Homo sapiens: one gene and its partners. The protein of the gene in region 2 interacts with the protein of the main gene of each other region in a pairwise test. Each region holds a gene or a part of one and is shown on either strand. Other genes may lie near its edges. The genes, in order: EFHC1, SH3GLB2 and KRTAP5-11.

Region 1 (3,652 bases), on a different chromosome or scaffold from region 2:
ATAATAGCCATTCTGACTGGTGTGAGATGATATTTCATTGTGGTTTTGATTTGCATTTCTCTAATGATAGTGATGTTGAGCTTTTTTTTCATATGGTTATTGGCCATGTGTATGTCTTCTTTTGAGAAGTGTCTGTTCATGTCCTTTGCCCACTTTTTAATGGGGTTCTTTGCTTTTTTTCTTGTAAATTAAAGTTTCTTATAGATGGTGCATATTGGACCTTTGTCAGATGCATAGTTTGCAAATATTTCTTTCCCATTCTTTAGATAGTCTTTTTACTCTGTTGATGCTTTCTTTTGCTCTGCGGAAGCTCTTACGTTTAATTAGATACCATTTGTCAATTTTTGCTTTTGTTGTGATTGCTTTTGGTGTCTTTGTCATGAAATCTTTGCCCATTCCTATGTTTAGAATAGTGTTGCCTTGGTTGTCTTCCAGGGTGTTTATAGTTTTGGGTTTTACATTTAAGTCTTTTATCTATCTTGAGTTGATTTTTATATCTGGTGTAAGATATATGGCTAGCATATGGCTAGCAGGTTATCCCAGCACCTTTCCCCATTGCTTATTTTTGTCAACTTTGTTGAAGATCACATAATTATAGGTGTGTAGCCTTATTTCTGAGCTCCCTATTCTATTCCATTGGTCTATGTGTCTGTTTTTGTACCAGTACTGTACTGTTTTGGTTACTGTAGCCCTGTAGTATAGTTTGAAGGCAGGTAACATGATGCCTCCAGCTTTGTTCTTTTGCTTAGAATTGCCTTGACTATTCAGGCTCTTTTTGGGTACCATTGAATTTTAAAGTATTTTTTTCTAGTTCTGTGAAGAGTGTCACTGGCAATTTGATAGGAATAGCATTGAATCTGTACATTGCTTTGGGCAGTATGGTGACTGTAAAGATATTGATTTTTCGTATCCATGAGCATGTAATGTTTTTTCATTTGCTTGTGTTATCTCTGATTTCCTTAAGCAGTGTTTTGTAATTCTCATTGTAGAGATCTTTCATCTCCCTGGTTAGCTGTATTCCTAGGTATCTTATTCTTTTTGTGACAGTTGTAAATGGGATTGTGTTCCTGATTTTACTCTCAGCTTGGCTGTTGTTGGTGTATAGGAGTGCTAGTGATTTTTGTATGTTGATTTTGTGTCCTAAAATTTTGCCGAAGTTGTTTATTAACTTAAGGAGTTTTTGGGATGAGGCTCTGGAGTTTTCTAGATATAGAATCATGTTTTCTCCAAACAGGGATAGTTTGACTTTCTCTCTTCCTACTTGGATGTCCTTCATTTCTTTCTCTTGACTGATTGTTCTGGCCAAGACTTCCAATATTGTCTTGGATAGAAGTTGTGGAAGAGGGCATCCTTTTCTTGTGTCAGTTTTCAAGAGGAATGCTTCCAGCTTTTCCCTGTTCAATATAATGTTGGCTGTGGGTTTTTCATAGATGGCTCTGATTATTTTGAGGTGTGTTCCTTTAATACCTAGTTTATTTATTTATTTATTTTATTATTATACTTTAAGTTATGGGGTACATGCGCACAACGTGCAGGTTTGTTGCATATGTATACATGTGCCATGTTGGTGTGCTGTACCCATTAATTTGTCATTCAATTAGGTATATCTCCTAGTGGTATCCCTCCCCACACCCCCCACCCTATGACAGGCCCCAGTATGTGATGTTCCCCACCCTGTGTCCAAGTGTTCTCATTGTTCAATTCCCACCTATGAGTGAGAATATGCAGTGTTTGGTTTTCTGTCCTTGCGATAGTTTGCTCAGAATGATGGTTTCCAGCTTCATCCATGTCCCTACAAAGGACATGAGCTCATCATTTTTTATGGCTGCATAGTATTCCATGGTGTATATGTGCCACATTTTCTTAATCCAGTCTATCATTGTTGGACATTTGGGTTGGTTCCAAGTCTTTGCTATTGTGAATAGTGCCGCAATAAACATATGTGTGCATGTGACTTTATAGCAGCATGATTTATAATCCTTTGGGTATATGCCCAGTAATGGGATGGCTGGGTCATATGGTATTTCTTGTTCTGGATCCTTGAGGAATCACCACACTGTCTTCCACAATGGTTGAATTAGTTTACATTCCCACCAACAGTGTAAAAGCATTCCTATTTCTCCACATCCTCTCCAGCACCTGTTGTTTCCTGACTTTTTAATGATCTCCATGCTAACTGGCATGAGATGTGTGGTTTTGATTTGCATTTCTCTGATGGCCAGTGATGATGAGCATTTTTTCACGTATCTGTTGGCTGCATAAATGTCTTCTTTTGAGAAGTGTCTGTTCATATCCTTCGCCCACTTTTTGATGGGGTTGTTTTATTTTTTCTTGTAAATTTGTTTAAGTTCTTTGTAGATTCTGGATATTAGCCCTTTGTCAGATGGGTAGATTGTAAAAATTTTCTCCCATTCTGTAGGTTGCCTGTTCACTCAGATGGTAGTTTATTTTGCTGTGCAGAAGCTCTTTAGTTTAATTACATCCCATTGGTCAATTTTGGCTTTTGTTGCCATTGCTTTTGGTGTTTTAGTCATGAAGTCCTTGCCCATGCCTATGTCCTGAATGGTATTACCTAGGTTTTCTTCTAGGGTGTTTATGGTTTTAGGTCTAACATTTAAGTCTTTAATCCATCTTGAATTAATTTTTGTATAAGGTGTAAGGAAGGGATCCAGTTTCAGCTTTCTACATATGGCTAGCCAGTTTTCCCAGCACCATTTATTAAATAGGGAATCCTTTCCCCATTGCTTGTTTTTCTCAGGTTTGTCAAAGATCAGATGGTTGTAGATGTGTGGTATTATTTCCGAGGGCTCTGTTCTGTTCCATTGGTCTATATCTCTGTTTTGGTACCAGTACCATGTTGTTTTGGTTACTGTAGCCTTGTACTATAGTTTGAAGTCAGGTAGCGTGATGCCTCCAGCTTTGTTCTTTTGGCTTAGGATTGTCTTGGCAATGCAGACTCTTTTTTGGTTCCATATGAACTTTAAAGTAATTTTTTCCAATTCTGTGAAGAAAGTCATTGGTAGCTTGATGGGGATGGCATTGAGTCTATAAATTACCTTGTGCAGTATGGCCATTTTCACAATATTGATTCTTCCTACCCATGAGTATGGAATGTTCTTCCATTTGTTTGTGTCCTCTTTTATTTCATTGAGCAGTGGTTTGTAGTTCTCCTTGAAGAGGTCCTTCATGTCCCTTGTAAGTTGGATTCCTAGGCATTTTATTCTCTTTGAAGCAATTGTGAATGGGAGTTCACTCATGATTTGGCTCTCTGTTTGTCTGTTATTGGTGTATAAGAATGCTTGTGATTTTCGCACATTGATTTTGTATCCTGAGACTTTGCTGAAGTTGCTTATCAGCTTAAGGAGATTTTGGGCTGAGAGGATAGGGTTTTCTAAATATACAATCATGTCATCTGCAAACAGGAACAATTTGACTTCCTCTTTTCCTAATTGAATACCCTTTATTTCTTTCTCTTGCCTGATTGCCCTGGCCAGAACTTCCAACACTCTGTTGAATAGGAGTGGTGAGAGAGGGCATCCCTGTCTTGTGCCAGTTTTCAAAGGGAATGCTTCCAGTTTTTGCCCATTCAGTATGATATTGGCTGTGGGTTTGTCATAAATAGCTCTTATTATTTTGAGATATGTCCCATCAA
Region 2 (3,652 bases):
CGCAGTGGCTCACGCCTGTAATCCCAGCACTTTGGGAGGCCAAGGCGGGCGGATCACAAGGTCAGGAGTTCAAGACCAGCCTGGCCAACATGGTGAGACCCCGTCTCTACTAAAAACACAAAAAATTAGCTGGGCATGGTGGCGGGTGCCTGTAATCCCAGCGACTTGGAAGGCTGAGGCAAGAGAATTGCTTGAACCCAGGAGGCGGAGGTTGCAGTGAGCCAAGATTGCGCCACTGCACTCCAGCCTAGGTGACAGAGAGAGACTCCGTCTCAAAAAAAAAAAAAAGAGTTAAGTTAAATTTACCTGAGGCCAGGCACAGTGGCTATGCCTGTAATCCCAGCACTTTGGGAGGCCGAGGCGGGTGGATCACGAGGTCAGGAGTTCAAGACCAGCCTGGCCAAGATGGTGAAACCTCATCTCTACTAAAAATACAAAAAATTAGCCGAGCGTGGTGGCAGGCGCCTGTAGTCCAGCTACTCGGGAGGCTGAGGCAGGAGAATGGCATGAACCCGGGAGGAGGAGCTTGCAGTGAGTCGAGATTGTGCCACTGCACTCCAGCCTGGGTGACAGAGTGAGACTCCATCTCAAAAAAAAAAAAAAAATTATGTTAGGTAAAAGCAGCTAAATGCAAGAAACAACATGTCATATGATTCCATTTATATAAAATGTTCAGAAAAAATGAACTTATAGGGACCGAAAACACGTTAGTGGTTGGCTGGCTGGAGGTGAAAATGGGGCTTGACAATAGACATGAAGGACTTTTGGGGTGTGATGGAAATGTTCTTTAAATTAGACTGTGGGCCGGGCACGGTGGCACACTCCTGTAATCCCAGCACTTTGGGAGGCCAAGGTGGGAGGTCACTTCAGCTTAGGAGTTTGAGATCAGCCTGGGCAACATAGCGAGATCCCCATCTCTACAGAAAAATATAAAAATTAGAAGGGCATGGTGGTGGACACCTGTAATCCCAGCTAATCAGGAGGCTGAGGTGGAAGGATGCCTTCAGCCCAAAAGGCAGAGGTTGCAGTGAGCTGAGATTGCACCACTGCAATCCAGCCTGGGGGACAGAGCCAGACCCTGTCTCAAAAAAGGTAACAGAAAATAAAAAATAAATAAGTTTGGCTGGGCGCAGTTGCTCACGCCTGTTATCCCAGCACTTTGGGAGGCTGAGGCGGGTGGATCACCGGAGGTCAGGAGATCGAGACCTGCCTGGATAACATGGTGAAACCCGGTCTCTGCTAAAAATACAAAAATTAGCTGGGAGTGGTGGTGGGCGTGTGCAATCCTAGCTCCTTGGGTAGCTGAGGGAGGACCCGGGATGCTTGAACCCAGGAGGCAGAGGTTGCAGTGAGCTGAGATTGCGCCACCGCACTCCAGCCTGGGTGACAGAGTGAGACTCTGCCTCAAAAAAAAAAAAAAAAAAAAAGTTAGATTGTGGAGATGTTTGTACAACTCTGTAAATTTACTAAAAATCATTGAATTATACACTTAAACACATAATATATAGCTTATACTTGGATAAAATTTTAAAATGAAAAAAAAAAGATGGATATGGTTCTATAAATGCTTCAGTGAAAAGATACCTGTAATATGATGTCAAGTTAAAAAGTCAGGTTCCAGCCGGGTGCGGTGGCTCATGCCCGTAATCCCAGCACTTTGGGAGGCCATGGCGGGCAGATCACTTGAGGTCAGGAGTTGGAAACCAGCCTGGCCAACATGGTAAAACACCGTCTCTACTAAAAATACAAAAAAGTTAGCCAGGTGTGCTGGTGGGCACATGGAATCCCAGCTACTTGGGAGGCTGAGGCAGGAGAATTGCTTGAACCCAGGAGGCGGAGGTTGCAGTGAGCTGAGATTGCGCCACTGCACTCCAGCCCGGACAACAGAGCAAAACTCCATCTCCAAAAAAAAAAAAAAAAAAAAAAAAAAGTCAGGTTCCCAGATAGCACACAATATGATTCCATTAAAAAATACACACAAATAGGCCAGGTGCGGTGGCTCACACCTGTAATCCCAGCACTTTGGGAGGCTGAGGCAGGCGGATCACTTGAGGTCAGGAGTTTGAGAACAGCCTGGTCAACATGGTGAAACCCTGCCTCTACTAAAAACACAAAAATTAGCTGGGTGTGGTGGCGGGCTCCTGTAGTCCCAGCTACTCGGGAGGCTGAGGCAGGAGAATCACTTGAACCTGGGAGGCAGGGGCGTTGCAGTGAGCTGAGATCGCACCACCGCACTCCAGCCTGGGTGATGGAGTGAAACTGTGTCTCAAAAAAAAAAAAATAGGCCGGGCGCGGTGGCTCACGCCTGTAATCCCAGCAGTTTTCGAGGCATAGGCGGGCAGATCACGAGGTCAGGAGATCGAGACCATCCTGGCTAACATGGTGAAACCTCGTCTCTACTAAAAAATACAAAAAAAATTAGCCAGGCGTGGTCACGGGCGCCTGTAGTCCCAGCTACTTGGGAGGCTGAGGCAGGAGAACGGCGGGAACCCAGGAGGTGGAGCTTGCAGTGAGCCGAGATCACGCCACTGCACTCTAGCCTGGGCGACAGAGCGAGACTCCATCTCAAAAAAAAACAAAAACAAAACACACACACACACACAAACCAAAACTGGTTAAGAGAAGATTCCATTTTTTACTCTTTTTTTCTGCGTAGAGTTTTTACATTTAGAATGAATTCAGGTATTATTTGTATAATTATTTTTTTAAGTAAAAAAAAGGAAGGGAGGGAGGGAGAATCAGAGCTAAAGACCATGACCCCTAGTCCCTGGCTGTGAGGCCTGCTCACCATAGGGGGTGGTCGGCCCCAGCTCACTGGCCGCGTCTGCCATGTACTGAGCCAGCAGCTCCCCGTTGGTGACCCTTGAGGGGACCTTCCTGTCCAGCTTCTCATACAGGAACTCCTCCACTCGGGCACCTGTGGGGAGACAGCAGCCAAAGCCACAGGGCTCCTTAGTTCAAGCCCAAAAATGAAACAGAAACAGACCCAGACCCGGCCCTGCCCACAGGTGCACCTGGCCTGCTGACTTCCAGAATACGCTCTTGCTCATGCCCAACCCTGAGACTGTTGTGATTGACCCAGCACTATACAGAGGAGGAAGCCAGGGCCCGTCCACTTCTCCCTTATTAATATGATTACAGACCATAATACATGCTTGCACAATTCTCTGCTCCTGGCACCCAAAAGTTATCTGGCCCCTCAATGAGCCACAGAGCAGATTTACAGGCAGACACACAGCACGACCCGGAGCCACCCTCCTTTCCCCGGAAGTCCTGCAGGTCGCTTCTGCTTGACCTTGGGGGCCTGCCTGGGTGTGCTCCGGGCAGTCCCTTCATCTCTGGGCCTTGCTGACCTCTTGAAAGTGACCAGGTTGGGACGGACACGGTGGCTCCTGCCTATAATCCCAGCACTTTGGGAGGCCAAGGCGGGTGGATCATTTGAGGTCAGGAGTTCAAGACCAGCCTGGCCAACATGGTGAAACCCCTTCTCTACTAAAAATACAAAAATTAGCTGGGCGTGGTGGCATGTGCCTGTAGTCCCAGCTATTCAGGAGGCTGAGGCAGGAGAATCGCTTGAACCCAGGAGGCAAGGGTTGCAGTGAGCCAAGATTGCACCATTGCACTCCAGAATGGGTGACAGAGCAAGACTCCA
Region 3 (3,173 bases), on a different chromosome or scaffold from region 2:
CAGGGGGGCAAGAGGCCTGCCCTCAAGTCCTTATAGTATACTAATCCATTACAAGCACTTCCCTTTAGGACCCACCTCACAACACTCTTGCATTGGGGATGATGTTTCCAACACATGAATGTTGGGGGACACATGCAGACCATGGCATAGAGAAATCTCTCTTTCCCACCTGGAGTAAAACTGAGCAGGGAACAAAAGTGGGCAACTGGAAGAAGCAGCCTAAGAGGAGTGAACACTGTAAATGGGGAAGAGAGAAAACAACAGCAGAGAGATTTGTGGGATTTTCAGAAATGCTTGAGTAGAGGAAGAGATTCCCTGCAAACACCAAAATGAGATTATATTATTGTTATTTGGACCGTAAAGGAAAAAAAAATTGGCTGAGCATGGTGGCTTATGCCTGTAATCCCAACACTTTGGAAGACCAAGGCAGGAAGATCACTGCAGACAAGGAGTTTGAGACCAGCCAGGGCAACTTGGCAAGACCCCATCTCTACAAAAAATTTAAAAATTAGCTGGGTATGATGACACACATCTATAGTCCCAGCTACTCAGGAGGCTAAGGAAGGAGAATTCTTTAAGCCCAGGAGTTAGAGGCTGCAGTGAGCTATGATCATGCCACTGCACTCCAGGCTGGGTGTCAGAGCAAGACCTTGTCTCAAAAAAAGAAAAAAAAAAAAAAAAAAAGGATCTCCACTGATACAATTTGGATGTCCCCTCCAACTCTCACATTGGTGGGGCGGGATAGGAGATGTTTGAATTATGGGGGCGGATCCCTCATGAATGGTTTAGCGCTATCCCCTTGGTGATGAGTGCGTTCACTCAGATCTGGTTGTTCACAAGTGTGTGGCCCCTCCTCACCCCTTGCTCCCATTCTCACCATGTGGCGTGCCTGCTCCTGCTTCACCTTCCACCATGAGGAAAAGCTCCCTGAGGGCTTGCCCAGAAGCCGAGCGGAGATGGGTGCAATGCTTGTGCAGCCTGCAGAACCATGGCCATTCTAACCTCTTTCCTTTATAAATTACCCAGCCTCAAGTATTTCTTTACACAATGCAAAGAACGGTCTAACACACCCAGAAAACTGAGACTGGCATGAGTAAAATATTACTTAATATAATATGCATGAATATTTATATTAATATTATGCTTGCAGAAATCTACCAAATCCATCTCCAGGATACATGATAATAAAGAATTTGTTTTCTTCTTTACTTGTGTTTCCTATAAAGACCATGGGTGAATTTTGAAATCTAAAAACATAAAATTAATATTATCTGGAGGGATAGACAGGGAAGATGAGAGCATGTGGGCAGAGGCTGTTGCCCATTGGTCACATGTGGTCAGCAGAGAGCGGGTGACCAGCACCCTGGAACTTTGCGGGAAGCACCAGACCAGCCTGGAGCTGAGGTTTTAATTGTAGGGGCCAAAACAAATGGGGAAGAAGACAAATTTAGAAAACAAAGAAAGTAGATGCTCAACTGAGCCAGGAGGAAGTCACTAGCAAAGAGGAAAAAAATAGAGCTCTGGAAAAATAGTGTAAACAGTCACAAGGAAAGGACCCTGCGTCCTCCCTGACCTCTGGACAGGTATATAAAGAGCCCAGGCTCAGGGGGCTCCACACCTGCACCTCCCTCTCACCTGCTCCTCTACCTGCTCTACTCTCAATCCGCCAGAATCATGGGCTGCTGTGGCTGTTCTGGAGGCTGTGGCTCTGGCTGTGGGGGCTGTGGCTCCGGCAGTGGGGGCTGTGGCTCTGGCTGTGGGGGCTGTGGCTCCAGCTGCTGTGTGCCCATTTGCTGCTGCAAGCCTGTGTGCTGCTGTGTGCCAGCCTGTTCCTGCTCCAGCTGTGGCTCCTGTGGGGGCTCCAAAGGGGGCTGTGGCTCTTGTGGGAGCTCCAAGGGTGGGTGTGGTTCTTGTGGCTGCTCCCAGTCCAACTGCTGTAAGCCCTGCTGCTCCTCCTCAGGCTGTGGGTCATTCTGCTGCCAGTCCAGCTGCTCCAAACCCTGCTGCTGCCAATCCAGCTGCTGCCAGTCCAGCTGCTGCAAGCCCTGCTGCTGCCAATCCAGCTGCTGCCAGTCTAGCTGCTTCAAGCCCTGCTGCTGCCAGTCCAGCTGCTGTGTCCCCGTGTGCTGCCAGTGTAAGATCTGAGGCTCTGGACCCAGACCTTCAGGTTTCTCCTCTTTGGTGAAAGCATTTCTTATGGTTTCTCTGAATCAGTTCATCCCACACATCATCCTGAGGCACCTGCACCTGCTCTAGCTCATCATCCATGCATGCACCTCTTTCCATGGCTCGGCTCTCCTCTAGGCCCTGCCTTCAGCTTCCTCACTCCGGAAACATGTGTTTCCTTGATGCAGGAGGTGTTCTTCCCTGGACGCCATGGTGTTCCCTGCACTTGGGTGTGGACCATCTTCTTCTTCTCCCTGGGCTGACTGAGATGCTAGGTCTGACCCCACAAGGCCAGGCCGACATTCCTGAGTGATCACTAAGAACCAGTTTCTCAACCACCACTGGGATTCTGGGTCCTCCTGGGCTGCTGCCTGTTCTCCTGTGACCCACCTGTGAGCAAGAAGGTCTCCTTCCTTCCTGTTGTCTCCATCTATTTAAAAAAAAAATGAATGAATTTCCTTGCAATAAAGCCTCTCATGTCTGTAAACCAACTGTACACTTGGTGCAATTCTGTCTAACCCCTTTCCTGTGTGGTGACTGATTCTGTGTTCTAATTTGTCAGCTAAGCTGGGAAATGCCTGCCAGCAGGCTTGGTGCATTCAAAAAGAACCACGAAGTTCACTTCTGCCTTCCACGCGGCCTCAAATATCTTCACTCTCTCTGCTTGCAGAAGAAGAGGGCTCAGCCTGGGGAGGATTCGGTATTCAATGCCCACCCTAGAGGCGCAGAGGGGCAGGCGGGCCCTGAGTCCTGATGACCAGCCAAGCAGGGCTTTGCACAAGACCCATGGCTTCCAGCTTCCCGCTCTCCTCTGGGGCCTTGGAAGGACCCAGGCAGGGCAAGGTCGGAGGAGGGAGGAGTGAAGCACCGCTGAGCTCCAACGCACTCTGATTCAAACACTCAATTAGCCTTTTACAATTATGAGGTCAACGGCTTTCCATAACTAAAGGTAACCAGGAAGTTACAGAATGGCCCAAGGTGTCCTCGGAGCTCAGTCTCCCGGCAGG

What was found.
Region 1: the proteins of SH3GLB2 (region 2) and EFHC1 interact in binary tests that used the Homo sapiens proteins (3 or more experiments, as listed by UniProt).
Region 3: the proteins of SH3GLB2 (region 2) and KRTAP5-11 interact in binary tests that used the Homo sapiens proteins (3 or more experiments, as listed by UniProt).

Annotation. Positions count from the first base shown.
Region 1 is NC_000006.12:52,440,816-52,444,467, forward strand, and holds part of EFHC1 (EF-hand domain-containing protein 1), read left to right. Parts: intron 1-3,652. UniProt on the Homo sapiens protein: Microtubule inner protein (MIP) part of the dynein-decorated doublet microtubules (DMTs) in cilia axoneme, which is required for motile cilia beating.
Region 2 is NC_000009.12:129,018,303-129,021,954, forward strand, and holds part of SH3GLB2 (endophilin-B2), read right to left. Parts: intron 2,918-3,652; coding exon 2,789-2,917; intron 1-2,788.
Region 3 is NC_000011.10:71,581,339-71,584,511, reverse strand, and holds KRTAP5-11 (keratin-associated protein 5-11), read left to right. Parts: upstream 1-1,636; 5' UTR 1,637-1,674; coding exon 1,675-2,145; 3' UTR 2,146-2,657; downstream 2,658-3,173.